2 linked regions of the Homo sapiens genome follow. The protein of the gene in region 2 purifies or fractionates together with the protein of the main gene of each other region. This does not show direct contact. Each region holds a gene or a part of one and is shown on either strand. Other genes may lie near its edges.

What was found. Proteins that work in one complex are often made in the same cells at the same time.
Region 1: the proteins of SLC35F2 (region 2) and REEP5 purify together in Homo sapiens (affinity purification with mass spectrometry; 2 studies listed by BioGRID and IntAct, with this or other methods). This does not show direct contact.

The regions. Positions count from the first base shown.
Region 1 is NC_000005.10:112,887,728-112,891,227, forward strand, and holds part of REEP5 (receptor expression-enhancing protein 5), read right to left. Parts: intron 1-3,500. UniProt on the Homo sapiens protein: Plays an essential role in heart function and development by regulating the organization and function of the sarcoplasmic reticulum in cardiomyocytes.
Region 2 is NC_000011.10:107,806,012-107,811,312, forward strand, and holds part of SLC35F2 (solute carrier family 35 member F2), read right to left. Parts: intron 866-5,301; coding exon 706-865; intron 1-705.

The DNA of each region.
Region 1 (3,500 bases), on a different chromosome or scaffold from region 2:
CTTTCATCTTGAATGTAGTTATTATTCCTAACTCCTTCTTTACAGCTCTACTTTGCCATTGAGATTTTTTTTTAATTGACAAGAATTCTGCCCTAATTACTTAAATAAGGATTTTCACACTATGTCCAAAAAATTTTTACTGTTGATTCAAATAATAAATACCAACTCGTCACTTCAAGTCATCCATGCAATTTACTCCTTTTTAAGATAAAAAGAAAAGCAGAAGGAAAAGGAATATTCAGAGTAATCTGCCCATTTCCCTAGAAAGTTTAATAAACAATATACTGAGTTATTTTAGTTTAAAAGATTCTAACCACATTGTATTCCACACAGCCTAGGTGACTCTACAAAAAAACAGAAGTCACTTACAGAGATTCCAAATCAGTATTTTTTACAACTTCTCCTTAGTGTAAAAACATCTTAATTTCTCATGCTTTAAATTTAAGTCTTAGTCCTTATGATTCCAAACCAAGGGATGTACTCATAATCAACAAGCTATGATGGTTTTCTAAGACAGTCTTTCAGGTGTTTTAGAGATACAAAGCTGATAAAGGGCTAACACTAATGACAAGAGTTTCAGTTTAAAATGCACAAATAGCTCACTCCATCAGCACCATGTTGGCTCTGAGAAATTTATACTAGACTTTGAACTTGTATAACACTCAAAATAAAAAACAAAACCCAAGTTCTCAACAATATCTCCAGATTATTCTTTCTGAGAGTCTTGCTCTGTCACCCAGGCTGGAGTGCAGTGGCATGAACATGGCTTACTGCAGCCTTGAACTCCTGGGTTCAAACAATCTTCCCACAGCCTCCCAAGTAGCTGGGAATGACTGCAGGCATGAACCACCAGGCCTGGCTAATTTTTTATAACTTTTTTTTGTAGAGACAAGTGTCACAATGTTGTCCAGACTCCCCTTATCTCAACTACAGTAAAAAGTAACTCTTGAAATGTAACCTTTGTGAATTAAAATTTGTTACACATGCACAAGAGTTTTTAAGACAGAGACTTGCTAGGCATGGTGGCATGCACCTGTAGTCCCAGTGACTTGGGAGGCCAAGGTGCAAGGATTGCTTGGGCCCAGGAGTTGGAGACTGACATGGTTTAGCTGTGTCCCCACCCAAATCTCATCTTGAACTGTAGCTCCCATAATTCTCATGTGTTGTGGAAAGGACAGGGTGAGAGATAACTGAATCATGGGGGTGGTTTCCTGCCATACTGTTCTCATGGTAGTGAATAAGTCTCACGAGATGTGATAGTTTTATAAGGAGTTTCCCCTTTCGCTTGGGCTCTCATTCTTTCTTGCCTGCCGCCACCATGTAAGACATCCCTTTGCTTTTCCTTCATCTTCCACCATGATTGTGAGGTCTCCACAACCATGTGGAACTGTGAGTCAATTAAACCTCTTTCCTTTATAAATTGCCCAGTCTCGGCTATGTCTTTATTAGCAGCATGAGAACAGACAAATGCAGAGACCATCCTGGGCAACAGAGCAAGAGCTCATCTCAAAAACAAAACAAAACCCAGACACTATAGGACTAAATTTTTTATAAAACCCCAAAACTATAGCTGTATGCTTAAGAAACATACCTACAACAAAACCAAATAGGAACACTGAAAATAAAGTTATGGGAAAGATATATCAGACAAACACCAACTCCCAAAATAGCTCATTAGCAATATTAATACATACAAATTACTTAAGGCAAAATAAGTAAATAGGATGATAAAGAAGGAAAGCAATTCACCAAGAATATTAAAATTCCTGAACTTGTATATACCTTTGAAATACGTAAATTATATCTAACTTTGCATATGTTTGCAATAGAATTATTTTTATAATTATATATTTATATATAGCTATAGATAGCTTTCAAATATGGCTTTGAAATATTTAAATGTAAGTCAGAATTATATAGACAAATGGACAAAATCTGCAATCATAGATTTTAACATTTCCATCAGAAATTGATATACTAGCCAGGCTTACACCTGTAATCCCAGCACTTTGGGAGGCTGAGGTTGGAGGATCACATGAGCCCAAGAGTTTTGAGACTAGCCTGTGTAACATAGGGAGACCACATCTCTAGGAAAAAAAAAATTTTTTTTTTTTTTTGAGACTGATTCTTGCTCTCTTACCCAGGCTGGAGTGCTGTGGCACAATATCAGCTCACTGCAACCTCCGCCTCCCGGATTCAAGCGATTCTCCTGTCTCAGCCTCCCAAGTAGCTGGGACTGCAGGCAAACACCACCATGCCCAGCTAATTTTTGTATTTTTAGTAGAGACGGGGTTTCACCATGTTGGCCAGGCTGGTCTTGAACTCCTGACCTCAAATGATCCACCCCCATCGGCCTCCCAAAGTGCTGGGATTACAGGCGTGAGCCACCGCACCCGGCCACAAAAAATAAATTTAAAATTAGCCAGGCTTGGTGATGTATGCCTGTGGTCCTCCTGGGAGGTTGAGGTGGGAGGGTGGCTTGACCTTGGGAGGTCGAGACTGCAGTGAGCTGTGATACCATCACTGCAATCCAGGCTTGGTGAGACAGCAAGACCCTGTCTCAAAAAGACAAAAAAAAGTTGATATATAAAACAACCTAGAAATTAGTAAGAATACAGAATAAAGAACACAAAATTTAAGTCTTTTTTTTTTTTTAAATAAAAAAGGGTTTCACTTTGTCACCCAGGCAGGAGTGCAGTGGCACAAATACAAAACACTATAGCCTCAACTTCCTGGGCTCAAGTGATTCTCCCGCCTCAGCCCCCCAGGTAGCTGAAGACCACAGGCATGCAGGCACGCACCATCACGTCTGGCTAATTTTTGTACTTTTTGTAGAGATGGGGTTTCGCCATGTTGGCCGGGCTGGTCTCGAACTCCTGACCTCAAGTGATCCACCCATCTCAGCCTCCTAAAGTGCTGGGATTACAGGTGTGAGCCACTGCACCTGGCCTAAAATCTCACTCTAAAGATATATACAGATCTCTCAACCCAACAAAGAGGGATTCAAAGAGTTAATATAGTATATAGAGAGTAACAGGATGGACTCAAAGAAACTAACTTCCAATCCTGGTTCTGCCATTTACTAGCTAAGCAAACCTTATACAAGTTACTTAATCACTTAAGTCTGGTTTTTCCTCTATAAAATAGGTATTAATTGAAAATTTTAAAATTTACCCCTATAATTTTGTAAGAAAATAAAATTACTAAGCATAGCAAGGACTTTCTCTGACCCAAGAATACTGTGTTTTCTAACAACATCTATGAAACATTACTAACAGGAGAACATGTTAGCTTTCAGTAGGGGAAAGCAAATCCTAGAACCAAAAATATTTAAGCAAATATTTATTTTTATTTTTTATTTTTGAGACAGAGTCTCACTCTGTCACCCAGGCTGGAGTGTAGTGGCACAGTCTTGGCTCACTGCAACCTCTGCCTCCTGGGTTCAAGCAGTTCTCCTGCCTCAGCCTCCCAAGTAGCTGGGATTACAGGCACGTGCTACC
Region 2 (5,301 bases):
ACCTCAGGTGATCCACCCACCTTGGCCTTCCAAAATGTTGGGATTACAGGTGTGAGCCACCGCACCCAACCTGGTTACTAGAAGTTTAAAATCTCTTACTCTTCTCACTTTCTGGTGCAATTCTGCTGTAATTTTTCATAATTTAACTCCTCAGAAGTCTAACAGGCTAGAAACTGATGATATATATCATAATGTAAGGCCTCAGAAAATGATTCCATGACATGACAAATTAATGGAGTTCATTGAAGGGGTAGGTCAATTTGAAAAATGGGAACCTGCTTTCAAAGTAATTTTCCCTCTCAATCCAAAGAGACACTTAACTCACTTGTAGACTGGGTGAATTCACAGACCTTAATTAGATTTTATACTATCAACTATAATTTTCTCTCTCAATCCAAAGAGACACTTAACTCACTTGTAGACTGGGTGAATTCATGGACCTTAATTAGATTTTATAGTATCAACTGTAATTTTCTCTCTCAATCCAAGGAGACGTTTAACTCACTTGAAGATTGGATGAATTCATAGACCTCAATTAGATTTTATACTATCAACTGAATTCAACACAAAGTGTGGCAAAGTGTTCTCACCTACACAGTGACTTAAAAAGAAATACTCCAGTAAACAAGTTTCTTTGTTGATATAAAAGTGAAAACATAAACAAATTTGCTGTGATTGAAGCACAAACATGTGACACCGTCTCACCTGAATTGTCTTCCCTCCCTGCTAGTATGTCTGCACCAACCATGGTTCCTACACCCAACAGACAGACAGCCACGGCGATGAAGTGGATCACTCTGTATCTTGCATGAAGAATAAACCATGACAGAGCCATCAACACAGGAATCCCAAAGCAATCCAAAAGCTGCATGGAAAGAGAATCAACAGTTTAAAACATATCTCTCATTAGCTAAAAGATGGGTAATTAAGAAATAATAGGAGTCAGTATTTATAATAGGAGTCAGTATTTATTGAGCATTTATTATTGCCAGCCCTGTACTAAGAGCTTTACCTGGATTCACTCATTTAATCCTCACAATTCCATGAGACTGAAATTACAATCCAATTTTATACATGAGAAAATGAAGATACAGAGAGGTGAAATGAGTTGCCAAAAACACATAGTTAAAAATGGGATGACAGCTGGGCACGGTGGCTCACGCCTGTAATCTTAGCACTTTGGGAGGCTGTGGCGGGCAGACTGCTTGAGTCCAGGAGTTCGATATCAGCCTGGGCAACATGGTGAAACCCTGTCTGTACAAAAAAAAAAAAAAACAACAACAAAAAAAAACCTTGGGTGTGGTGGTGCACTCCTGTAGTCCCAGCTACTTGGGAGGCTAAGGTGAGAGGATCACTTGAGCCCGGAGTTCAAGGATGCAGTGAGCTGTGATGGTGCCACTGCACTCTAGGCTGTACAACCCAGAGAGACCCTGTCTCAAAATAAATGAATAGATAATAAAATACAATGGAAGAGTCAGTTGCTGTATACAAGAATTCTGCTGAGGGCCTGTGCACTTTACCTCTATGCTCCCACCTGTGTATATCTTTTCTTTTATTTTATTATTATTATTTTTTTTTTGAGATGGAGTCTCGCTCTGTTGCCCAAGCTGGAGCGCAGTGGTGCAATCTCGGCTCACTGCAACCTCTGCCTCTCGGGTTTAAGCAATTCTTCCTGCCTCAGCCTCCCAAGGAGCTGGGATTACAGCCATCTGCCACCATGCCCAGCTAATTTTTGTATCTTTTAGTAGAGATGGGGTTTTGTCATGTTGGCAAGGCTGGTCTCGAACTCCTGATGTCAGGTGATCTGTCTGCCTCGGCCTCCCAAAGTGCTGGGATTACAGGCGTGAGCCACCACGCCTGGCCCTGTGTATATCTTTAAGTTCAGTAGACAAACATTCCTTCCTACCTGCAACCATTTACTCAGTCAACAAATATTTGTTAAACACCTTGCATGTGTGAGACACTGTGAAAGGAGCTAGGAATAGCGGTGAACAGGACAGAGCAAGCTGTGTCCTTAGGAGCACACAAAGCTAGAAAGGACATGGAATAAATAATCACACCACCAGATATTTCACTGGAATCGGGCTAAGCGCTACAAAGAAGCATGGGTTACTGTGAGAGAACAGACACCATCTCCCTGACAAAGCGTCCAACCCCACCATGTGAGACACACTCGTGCTCATGGCAAATACTCTTGCTCATCCTCCTCACATGCTCCCCCTCACCTGTTGATACTGGGTCCAGAAAACACTAGCTATACACCTGATATTGCTCATCTGGAAGGCAGAGGGATTAAGTGTGCCAAAATTACAGCAGGTCCAAAATTGTTTGCAAGATAAAAGATAAAAAAGAGAGTGCACTCACTCAATTCTTAAATTCACAAATTTAATGTGCATTCAAGGATAAAATATATTCAAGAGATTCTTGATGCATTCCAATGTATTTCTTTCAAGGAAGAAATATATTCCTTATACCAGTAATATTCCCGAAACTGCTGTTTTATTGCTCACCCTTTTGTTGTTTCAAACCTTGTCCCTGATTCTCTCTGTATCTGTTTGGTCTTGAACAAGACAGGCCCCTAAATCTCCAACAGCCCATTCGATCCTGTCCACAGTTGTTTACTGATTGCCTTTCACTGCAGTAGCATCAGTGGAGTCCAACGCATCATGTGTAGGAATGGGCATCTTGCCTTGTTATTTATTCCAGCTGCAGAACTCTAATCTCCTAAGTGCTTTATTGAGCCTGCCTGAATAACAAAACATTAAACGATGCAAATGATAATACCCTGTCCCTGAAGACACCAGCAGAATCCAGCCATAACGGCTTAACAAAATCTCAACTACATTCCTTAAACAAAAAAAGTAGAAAAAGACATTCTAAGAACTACCACAGAAGAGTCCCTTGTGTCTTAAAATCAAACTTAAATTTGCTCTATCTTTAACAACTTTTGTTGGGCAATGAGGGAGATGCCTATGTCATGATCAGAGCTCCAGAAACCTCAGGCCCCGGCCCCACGCTGACCAGCTAGCTGTGTGGCCCCAGCCAGTCACTCTCCAAGTCAAAATATAAAATAAAAAGATCAGACGAAATGATCACACAGTTTCCCTCCGACTCTAACATTCCATGACTTCTCATCTGATATCTATCACCTTTAGTCATGTGAACCTTCTTTTCAAAATGTATTCTTGGTGGCCGGGAGTGGTGGCTCATGCCTGTAATCCCAGCACTATGAGAGGCCAAGGCCGGAGGATCACTTGAGGTCAGGAGTTCGAGACCAGCCTGGCCAACATGGCAAAACCTCGTATCTACTCAAAATACAAAAAAAAAAAAAAAAAAAAAAATCAGCTGGGCGCATGCCTGTAATCCCAGCTACTCAGGAGGCCAAGGCTGCAGTGAACCAAGATTATCCCACTTCACTCCAGCTCGGTGACAGAATGAGACTCCACCTCAAAAAAAAAAAAAAAAAAAAAATTAGCCAAGTGTGGTGGCGCGTGCCTGTAATCCCAGCTGCTCAGGAGGCTAAGGCAGGAGAATCACTTGAACCTGGGAGGCGGAGGCTGCAGTGAGCCAAGATCATGCCATTGTACTCCAGCCTGGGTGACAGAGCAAGACTCCTTCTCAGAAAAAAAAAAAGTATTCTTGGTGATGGATGTCTTCTCTGTTTCAGTTCGAAGAGTATCAATTTTATTTTTAAAAATTATTGTATAGTCACAGTAAGCAGAGTACTAAGACAGACCCTGCGACATGGGTATAAAAACAAGTTAGATCATATTAGAGGTACAATAGAGTATAGAAGAGAAAATGAAAATTGAATTAACCTTTGACAATGAGGGGAGCAGGCTTCAAAAAGGACTGCATTCTAGGAAGAACAGAGCAGCACAGGGGAGAAGGAGCAGGCCATGAGTGGGAAATGGGTTGATGTGGCAGTAAAGTGGGAAGGGACATGAGCAGCAACCTGGGCCACATCATCATCTTCACGTGAACTATCCCATGACTGTTGGTAATTACAGAACCTTCTAAGGAATCCTTAAGAAGAAGGTTCAAAGACCACCTAATCCAGATTTCCATCCTTTTGGACTACCCAGGCCAGAGATTTACTCAGTTGGAGAACCAGCTTGAATCATTCCTATCACAGCTGTCGCTGCTGCTGGAGAAAACATTACCTTGTTAGATGCCTTTTTTATAATATATTCTTTGCTAGGACCGTAAGTGCATGACTTTTGGCAACCAAATGCTTAGGTTTTTCTAAGAGGCTAGCGTGAAAGAAATTGTTTTCAATTTCTTTGAAATTGAAAGAAGGCATGAACTTCAGTCGCAACTATCCAACTGTAAGTGTTCTGTTTAACTGTGTTTAGGCCTTGCACCAATTCAAAACTTTTTATCATTAGTTAGAGATCAAAGTTCCTGGGAATTGTAATCAAGTAATTAAAATGTAGGTGAGATTATGAGAGTAGATGTGACAAGAAAATACCATTTTCTACATACTTATGTATACTTCATTAACCAACGCTAAAAGTACACTTACTCCTATTAGTGATAAACTTCATTCTCTAGGTAACTGCTGGGTTTAATTTTTACGAAACTTTAGGTTCTTTTTGTGCCTCCTATAGTGTCTGTCTTAATAAATCATTTCCTATCTCAGCTTTTTAACCCATACTGGTCAAAATCCAAGAGGTTTCCTGAGAACAATGCTTAGCACAATGTTACAGAAAAGAAAGTAGTTAATATAATGGTAGTAACATTTAATGTAGGTTCACACTGGAAAAATACTGAGTTCTCATCAATCCTTATATTTTCTATGCGAAATAAGTCTAATTTCAATTTTTCCAGTCCCTAAAATTTGGAGTCAAGTAAGAACATCTCTGTATTTTGTATAGTGAGAAAGGGACATATCAAAAAGTTATAAACTTCAAATCCCACATCTGATACACACTTTTTTTTATTATTTAAAAAAATGAAAAAAAAGTTATAAACAAACTGTGACATCTAAACCTGGCATTTGAGTCTATCTCACTTTCACCTCCACTTATAAAACATTTTGTAGTCAGTAATGGTGAGTCAGTGTTAGGAAACATCCCATAGTTTGCTAACATTAAGACAACTGAAATCAGTTGTCTTCAACTTTACAAAGTTGAAAACCTCTGCAATGTAGGAATATTTTTCTTTCAATGCAGCAAGAATAAACCTAACAAAGAAATAGGGATGGGAGTTTTAACTCTGGCTACCACCTCTCCCAAAAATGTCTACTGGGTTTCTTCCAATGGTTTCTTTGTCATGAATATCTACTATGCTTGCAAAGCT